2 linked regions of the Homo sapiens genome follow. The protein of the gene in region 1 purifies or fractionates together with the protein of each later gene. This does not show direct contact. Each region holds a gene or a part of one and is shown on either strand. Other genes may lie near its edges. The genes, in order: SHCBP1 and USP49.

Region 1 (3,912 bases):
CAAAAATTAGCCAGGCATGGTGGCTGTCATACCAGCTACTTGGGAGGCTGAGGCATGAGAATCACTTGAACCCAGGAGACTGAGGTTGCAATGAGCCGAGATCATGCCACTGCACTCCAGCCTGGGTGACAAAGTGAAGCTCCATCTCAAAAACAAAACAAAATAAAATAAAAATAAAATAAATACAAAAAAAAAATTAGCTGGGCATGGTGGCGGGCACCTATAATCCCAGCTACTCAGGCGACTGAGGCAGGAGAATTGCTTGAATTCAGGAGGTGGAGGTTACAGTAAGCCGAGATAGTGCCACTGCACTCCAGCCTGGGTGACAGAGCAAGACTCCATCTCAAAAAAAAAAAAAAAGTGATTTTTTTTTAAGTTGAATAAATGGTTTTTATCTTAAGGCATCACATCTAGAGGCAAAAATTAAAAAAAAGAATAAAAGGTTTTAATATCAACATTTGGCTGAAACTGATGCAGAAATGAACATTACTTTTTAAACCTCCTTGCAACAAGATTTTTTAAAAGTAAAAATACCTTTCAATGATCAAATAATAAATCTAACATAAATCCTACATTTAGTAGCATCCAAAAAATAAGAATTATTTTTTACTCAAATTTAAAAAACAAACATAACCACACTTAATGGGAAAAAATGTAATACTCTTTCTAAAGCATGAAAACAGATACCAAAATACCATGTATTCTTAAATGACCACATATGCTACACTGACACTATGGCCCACAGTGAGTTTGAAAAGATATAACAAGATTCAATTTTGTTATTTCATCACTATAATTTTAATCATTAGGCATATTAATGTCACATACAGTTTTTAAAATATAAATATTTTTAAAGCTGTTTTACAATATGATAACAAGAACACCCAGCAGATACAGGTTGTACAGTTAATCATTTTGACTGTGTCAGTAATATAATCAGAATACTGTAACGGTAAGAGAAAAATACTTTTTTTTTTTTTTGAGACTGGGTCTCGCTCTGTCGCCCAAGCTGGAATGCAGTGGCGCAATCACACCTCACTGCAGCCTCAACCTCCTGGGCTCAAGGATCCTCTAGCCTCAGCCTCCTGAGTAGCTGGAACTACATGCATGCACCACCACACTCAGCTAATTTTTTTTAAATTTATTTTTAGTAGAGACAGGGTCTCACTATGTTGCCTAGGCTAGTCTTGAACTCCTGGGCTCAAGTGATCCTCCTGCCTCAGCCTCCCAAAGTGCTGCGATTACAAGCGTGAGCCACCGCCTGGCCCGAAAAATACCTTGTTTTTAATCATTCCCATTCAGCAATAGTGAAAATGCTCTATGTACAACATTGGCTCTGAATAACACATTTCATTTCTGCTTCAAACCTCCTATGCTGTCTATCGCTGTTTTGACGACTGCATAGCTCAACAGAAAAATGCGTCCCATTGACGTCTCAATAATAAGTCTGATTAGGCAGATAAATTCCCAATCATAAAAGCTTTTATTTTAAGACAAGTATTATGCAAATACAGGATGGAAATCAGACTCACTGTAATTGGGATGAAAAGGCAACTCTAAGAAGAATGCTGTACATATGACACCTATTGCATTTTTATGCACTAGTCTTGCATTCCCTTCCTTACTTCCTCGTCTTTGAAGTGCTAAAGGTAATTACACTAAAAAGTTACTACCAGGCTTAATATGAGAGAACCATGTGTATAAGAAAGCAAGACTTTCAGATAAGCAATCTCCAAATATTTTCTATTTTATATGCATTTATGATTTTTCTTATAAAGAGGGAGTGTTTTATGTGCAACACCTGCAAATGGAAATAAATCTACCTTTCACTCAAGCCCAAATAATCAAATATAAAATACAGACAATACAGCAAACTACAATGGCAGCAGTGATTCTTAGGGCAGCATGTGCAAAATCCAGTATTTTGCTATCTACTTACATCACTGTAGTCAGAAAAGAAATGTGCCAAAACTACCTTTCCCATTCCACTTGAACTGGTTCCCCACAATCCCAACAAACATCTCCTGTGACATTAAGTTGTCATCAGCTTGCGTGATCCCCAGTTCACTCAACCTTTTCTTCTTTATCTGGCCTTTCTGTGTGGAGGCAGCAATTAGTTCATTTACAATTTCACAATTTCCCTCGACTTGCTCAGAAGGGTCAGTTCTTGCACAAAGCTCCATTTTACCAGTTGCACACTCAATCAGCTCTTCTAGATCCACTCTTTCAGCCACATCTGGCTCTCCACTTGTCTGAATTTTAAGCGCTTTATTTTCTGGAGAAACAAACAAATAATAACAAAGTTAAATATACAAGCTAACCCAACAAAAACATATATTTCTACACAGTCTTCTCAACAAGCAGCTGCCTTGCTTTCTATACCAAGGTTCCCTGACCCTCACACAGGATCACCAATTTTGAACTCTTCCTTTACCCTTTTCATCCCAGAATCACTTTTACTCAACAGACATTTCCTGGATAGTTACTATCTGCTAAGCACTGCGTTAGGAGATAGGATGCACAGATTGATAAGATAGTGCCACTTTTCTAAATGAAGTCCCAATCTAGCAGCTAATTCTAGATAGGCCCCATGATCCCCACCCCCTGGTATTACTTTCATGCCTATTAAATGGCAGAAGAATTTTGCACTGTAATTTTACAATGTAATTAAGATTGCTAATCAGTTTTCTCCAGCTGGTTGCTAAAGAGGAAGTCAGAGAAATTCAGAGCATGAGAGATTTGCCTTGAGGGATGTTCTCTGTTGCTGAGATGGGGGGGCCATGAGGCAAGAACCTGAGAGCAGCCTCTAGGAGCTGAGTGCCAGCCCCAGCAAACAGCCAGCAGCCAGCAAGAAAATGGAGACTTCAGACCCATGAGCTAAAGGAATGAATTCTGCCCATGAATGATATGAATGCGTTTGGAGACAGAGTCTGCCCCCAGAGCTTTCAGATGAGTCCTGCCCAGCTGACACCTTTATTTTACTTTTGTGAGACCTGTGAAGAAATAAAGAACTTGCAGAGATGTAACTGGAGCAGATCCTGAAGGATGACAAGGACTACCCTTTAAACTCTTTCAACCTGAAAAAGCTGATTAAATAAATAAACTGCTTTAAACTTTCCTCACCTACATCAAAGCTTAATCCTTCTCTATGACTGAGACTTAATAGTGGTCTACATCATAGCTTGAAGTTCACAGATTTCCACTGAGTTAGCTCCCCTTCGCTGCCAAGAAAGGCAGGTGACAGGAAGGCATTTACTTCTACCAATAAAAACAGAGGTAAACTCCACTATCCCCTCCAGGAAATGCAGCCTTCAGCCTGGCACATTCATTTCACTGTCTCCAGCCTTAACAAACGCCAGTAGGAGCCACCATTGCTGTCACACACCCACTGTTGCTGTCACACACCCACCATAGCATCACACACCCACCATTGCTATCACACACCCATCGTTGCTATCACACATCCACCCTCATTGAAAGCTAACCATGATAAGAAGGGAACTGCACAGAAACCACAACATCAAGATTTTGAATGACAGTTGAACTAGTTGACCTTGAAAGTTTCTTTCACAGTCTGTAATGTTATGACTTAATGTTACCAAGCTTCTCTCTCTCCATGCCCAAGCATATCCCAACAACCTTTTTTAAGGAAGAGAGGAAGACTCAGATCCTTAATCAGCATTTAATGCTGAAATAAATTATGTCTGGTTTTTATATTAAAAATTACTAAATATACCTTCAGTTCCATCTTCAGCATTTTCTTGCAGGTCAGAGAAGATTGTAGGTTTCACCAAGACAACACCATAACCTTCATTATTATGTATTATATTATTCACCATGGATATCTTGGGAATGTCATAATGTTCATCTAAGAAGTCCTGTGACATTGAAAACAAATGTTTTAGGAACTGT
Region 2 (3,912 bases), on another chromosome or scaffold:
GGCTCACTGAAACCTCTGCCTCCCAGGTTCAAGTGATTCTCCTGCCTCAGCTTCCCGAGTAGCTGGGATTACAGGTGCGTGCCACCACGCCCAGCTAATTTCTGTATTTTTAGTAGAGAGAGGGGTTTCACCATGTTGGCCAGGCTGGTCTCGAATTCCTGACCTCAAGTGATCCACCTGCCTTGGCCTCCCAAAGTGTTGGGATTACAGGTGTGAGCCACTGCACCCATCCGGCCTGAAACAGGTGTTTTTTTACTGTAGCAGTGAAGAATACCTTGACCTCTAGCACAACTTGGTGCAGTTGCCTTGATTTGTGCTAAGGCAGCAGTTTTACCCATTGCTACTTTTGTATCATTGTGCAAATATCATCACAGTGACAATGCAGATATGTCTCAGTATTATTAGGAAAATCGTTTTGATCTCAGGCACCCCACTATCCCCCCAGCCCAAAGGGTCTCAGAGATCCCTAGGCCTTTCCAGGCGACACTTTTTTTTTTTTTTTTTTTTTTTTGAGATGGAGTCTCACTCCGTTGCCAGGCTGGAGTGCTGTGGCACGATCTCAGCTCACTGCAACCTCCAACTCCCTGGTTCAAGCAATTCTCCTGCCTCAGCCTCCTGAGTAGCTGGGATTACAGGCACACGCCACCACGTCCGGATAATTTTTGTATTTTTAGTAGAGACGGAGTTTCACCATGTTGGCCAGGCTGGTCTTGATCTCCTGACCTCATGATCCACCTGCCTTGGCCTCCCAAAGTGCTGGGATTACAGGCGTGAGCCACCGTGCCCGGCCTCCAGGCCACATTTTTGAGAACACTGATCTAATACATGCTCACATCACTGAGAAACTTTTCCTCCTGTATTGCTATTCTGGGAGCATCCCTTCCATTGGAAGTTTTAAGTGGCTCCCAAATTCTTCACTCAGCAAAAGCACCTTGTTATGGAACTAACATTGAATAAGTAACAATCTTTCTTCTCCAAGAATTTTCTTGGGGATTGTTGAGTAAGGGAATAAGACATATAATTAGAGTTATAATGTTAAGAATTCCTTAAAAAGAATTATGTTAACTGTGATGGACGACAAAGGGAGAGCTAAATTCTGAATCTAACTCTGAGGCCTTGAACCTCATGATAAATCCCGACCAAACCAAATTGAAACACTCCACTTCCTCTCCTTCTATCAAACCTCTTTTAAAAGTGCAAGTTGTTAATAAATTGCCTACACAGCGCTTGGTCCAGGCATTGTAGTTTCCCCCTTCCTATTGTGTGTGGTGTTCTTTTTTTTTTTTTTGTGCTTACCTAGTTCTCCTGTTTACAGGTGTGTAACTTGAGCCACTACTATAGCTAATGTCTGTTTCTTTTACTTGTCCTTATATTTAAATGTAAGTCTTTATCTGCCTTAGCTATGTGTTGGGTGTTGAAATTGTTGATCTTATTTTGGGAGACTCCCATCCCCTCCCCCCACTACCACCCCGCAAGTAGTTTCAAGACAGTGCACCTAGGAGACTGCTTAACCTAAGCCTTTTGTAGCTTAGGTGCTGTTCTGTTTCCCAATGGACCACTACCAAGTCAGTCTGGTTTATTTCCCAAGCCTTACAATCTGCTGAACTTCTTCAGTTCCGGCAGCGATCCTCTAACTTGTGGGGGATTTCCATAAAACAGCTGAATCTCTCTTGGGTCATCTGTGGCAAAAGCCAGACACGTGCTCACCCGCCTGGGAGCCAATAGTAACTTTTGCAAACGCTGCCTCCGGAAACCCCACGGTTTGAGGGCTGCTGCTTTAGGAACAACACAGAAATAACGTCTTTTAACAGAATAAAACAAAACATACGGACGGGATAGTGAGAAAGCCTTTGTCCTTCGCAGTGGGGAGAGGTGTTAAAGGTGAACCGAAAAGAGTATGGGAAACTCATGTAAAATACCTTTACAGTTCCCCGGGAAGAAGGGGGCGGAGATGGGCTCGGGAGCGTCTCTGGCCCTTTAAGGAGGAGGGACAGACATAAGAGTCTGTACCTTTAAGAGTCTCTTTGTCTGGAAACCTTCTTATTTACCCTCCTGTGCTTCAACCAAACTTCGACCAGCTATTCACAACGTCCCCCTACGCCGCCGCCCCTTACGCCAGGCTCAAAGCGGCCGCGCGTTTGTGGCTGACCCTAAACTTTGCGCCTGCGGCGCGAACCCTCGGAACGGGTGCCGGTGCCGGGGTCGCGGCCCAGCGCTGCGCCGTTGGCGCAATGCAGGGCCTGAGGGGCGGGGCTCCAGCGGGCGGGCCAATAGACGGGCAGGGGGCGGGGCCGTGTTCGGTTGTCTCGCGCCCTGGTGACAGCTCGCGCGTGCTGATGATGGCGGTAAATAGAGGGGGCCGGGGGAGGGGACGGAGGAGGTGGGGAGGCAGCAAAGTGGGTAGCTCCAGGGGGTAGGGGGAACGGGGGCCGGGGAGGCCGCGACGGCCAGGGAGCCCATTCTAAGACTCGGAGGCGGGGATAGGAGTCTCCGGCTCACTAGCCCTCCCCTTTAAAGAAGCAAAATCCTCACACACCGGGTGAGGGGCGACAAAGGCAGCGCGCGCCTCGCGGGCGGGAGGAGCGGCGGCAGGGGGCGGGACCGCGGCGCCGGCGGGCTGGGGGCGCCCGGGGCGGGGGCGGCGGGAGGCGAGAGCCGGGAGTCGGGGCGCGCGGGCGCCTTATTTTGGCGGGGTGGGCGACGGCTGGGTTGGGGCAAAAGCGTTGAAGGGAGAGGGAAAGGAAGGCTTGGAGGCGATGAGGGGAACCGGGTTGAGAATGAGATGAGGAGGATTAAGGGGAGAAAGGGTTAGAAGCCAGGGAGAGGAGGAGTGAGAAAAAGCCAGCCAAGGAGATAGGAAGGAGGCAAAAGCCAGGGTGGGCGTTAAGGAAGCCGGGCAGGGAATGAGGTTAGGGCTGGGGAAAGGGATCCTGGGGTTAGGTGTAAGAGCAGGGGTTTGAAGGGGAAATCTTCGTAGCGGGTGGTGTTGGGGTGAGGGGTACCGGGGTAAGTGTTGGAAGTGGAAGACAAGGAGGGGCAGAGCTGGGGTAATAGTTGGGAGTAGGAAAGAGAGAGTGATTAAGAGCCAGACGTGACGAGGGTGTGAACTAGTGCGGAGCGAGATGAGCTGAAGGACTGGGACCAACGGTGTGGTGGGAACTGCTGGCGAGGTTCTGAGAAAGGAATGGGTTAGTGGGTGGGCGATGGATGTAAATTCTGTAAAGTGAGGGAGGGCAAATGAGACCTGGACTGGAACCAGGTGGAGTCAGGAATAAGAGTGTGGTGGAAGGGCGAAAGGAAACAGATAAGAGATGGGTGTCTGTAGGACGATTCTGGGACCAGAAGAGCTGAAAGGAGACTAGAGTTAGGGTGTAAGAAGTGATGGCCATCTGGGACAAGGATAACTGGGTAATTACGTTAATTGAAGAGGTTCAGCAAGATCCAAGGTGAAAACAGTGAGGTAAAGAGACAGGGCTAAAAGCAAATGGTGAGAGGAGCAGGAAGAGATGGGCCCCAGAATTTAAAGGATGAGATGGGGAGTAAGGGAAGAGAGGGGGCTAAGAGAAGCTGGGGGAGTCCTGATGGATGTAGAACTGGGGTAGACTGCAGGGGGGTGGGAATCGAATGTGCGTGTTATGGGGAGTTGCTCCAGAAGGTCTGCAAGGGTCAGGGCAGAAATGCTGTAGTGAAAGATCAAGTGTAAGAGAGCCTTTGGTGCAGAAGACGAGGAACCATGGTGAGTGAAAGGGGACCTAGAGACAGGGGTAAAGACTAAAAAGTAAGGGCAGAGGTGGGGGGTGCAGGAAAGGAATTCTTTGTTGAGGAGAGAACTGTGTGTTGAAACTGTGAATCCTTTTGTCCCTAAAAGTAGGAAATTCCAGAAACCTCTTTCTCTCAAGAAATCTTGAATCT

Evidence for each region.
Region 2: the proteins of SHCBP1 (region 1) and USP49 purify together in Homo sapiens (affinity purification with western blotting; 2 studies listed by BioGRID and IntAct, with this or other methods). This does not show direct contact.

The regions. Positions count from the first base shown.
Region 1 is NC_000016.10:46,579,780-46,583,691, forward strand, and holds part of SHCBP1 (SHC SH2 domain-binding protein 1), read right to left. Parts: intron 3,879-3,912; coding exon 3,737-3,878; intron 2,276-3,736; coding exon 1,950-2,275; 3' UTR 1-1,949. UniProt on the Homo sapiens protein: May play a role in signaling pathways governing cellular proliferation, cell growth and differentiation. May be a component of a novel signaling pathway downstream of Shc. Acts as a positive regulator of FGF signaling in neural progenitor cells.
Region 2 is NC_000006.12:41,893,757-41,897,668, reverse strand, and holds the start of USP49 (ubiquitin carboxyl-terminal hydrolase 49), read left to right. Parts: upstream 1-2,293; 5' UTR 2,294-2,345; intron 2,346-2,530; exon of another isoform or gene 2,531-2,539; intron 2,540-3,912. UniProt on the Homo sapiens protein: Deubiquitinase that plays a role in several cellular processes including transcriptional regulation, cell cycle progression or innate immunity.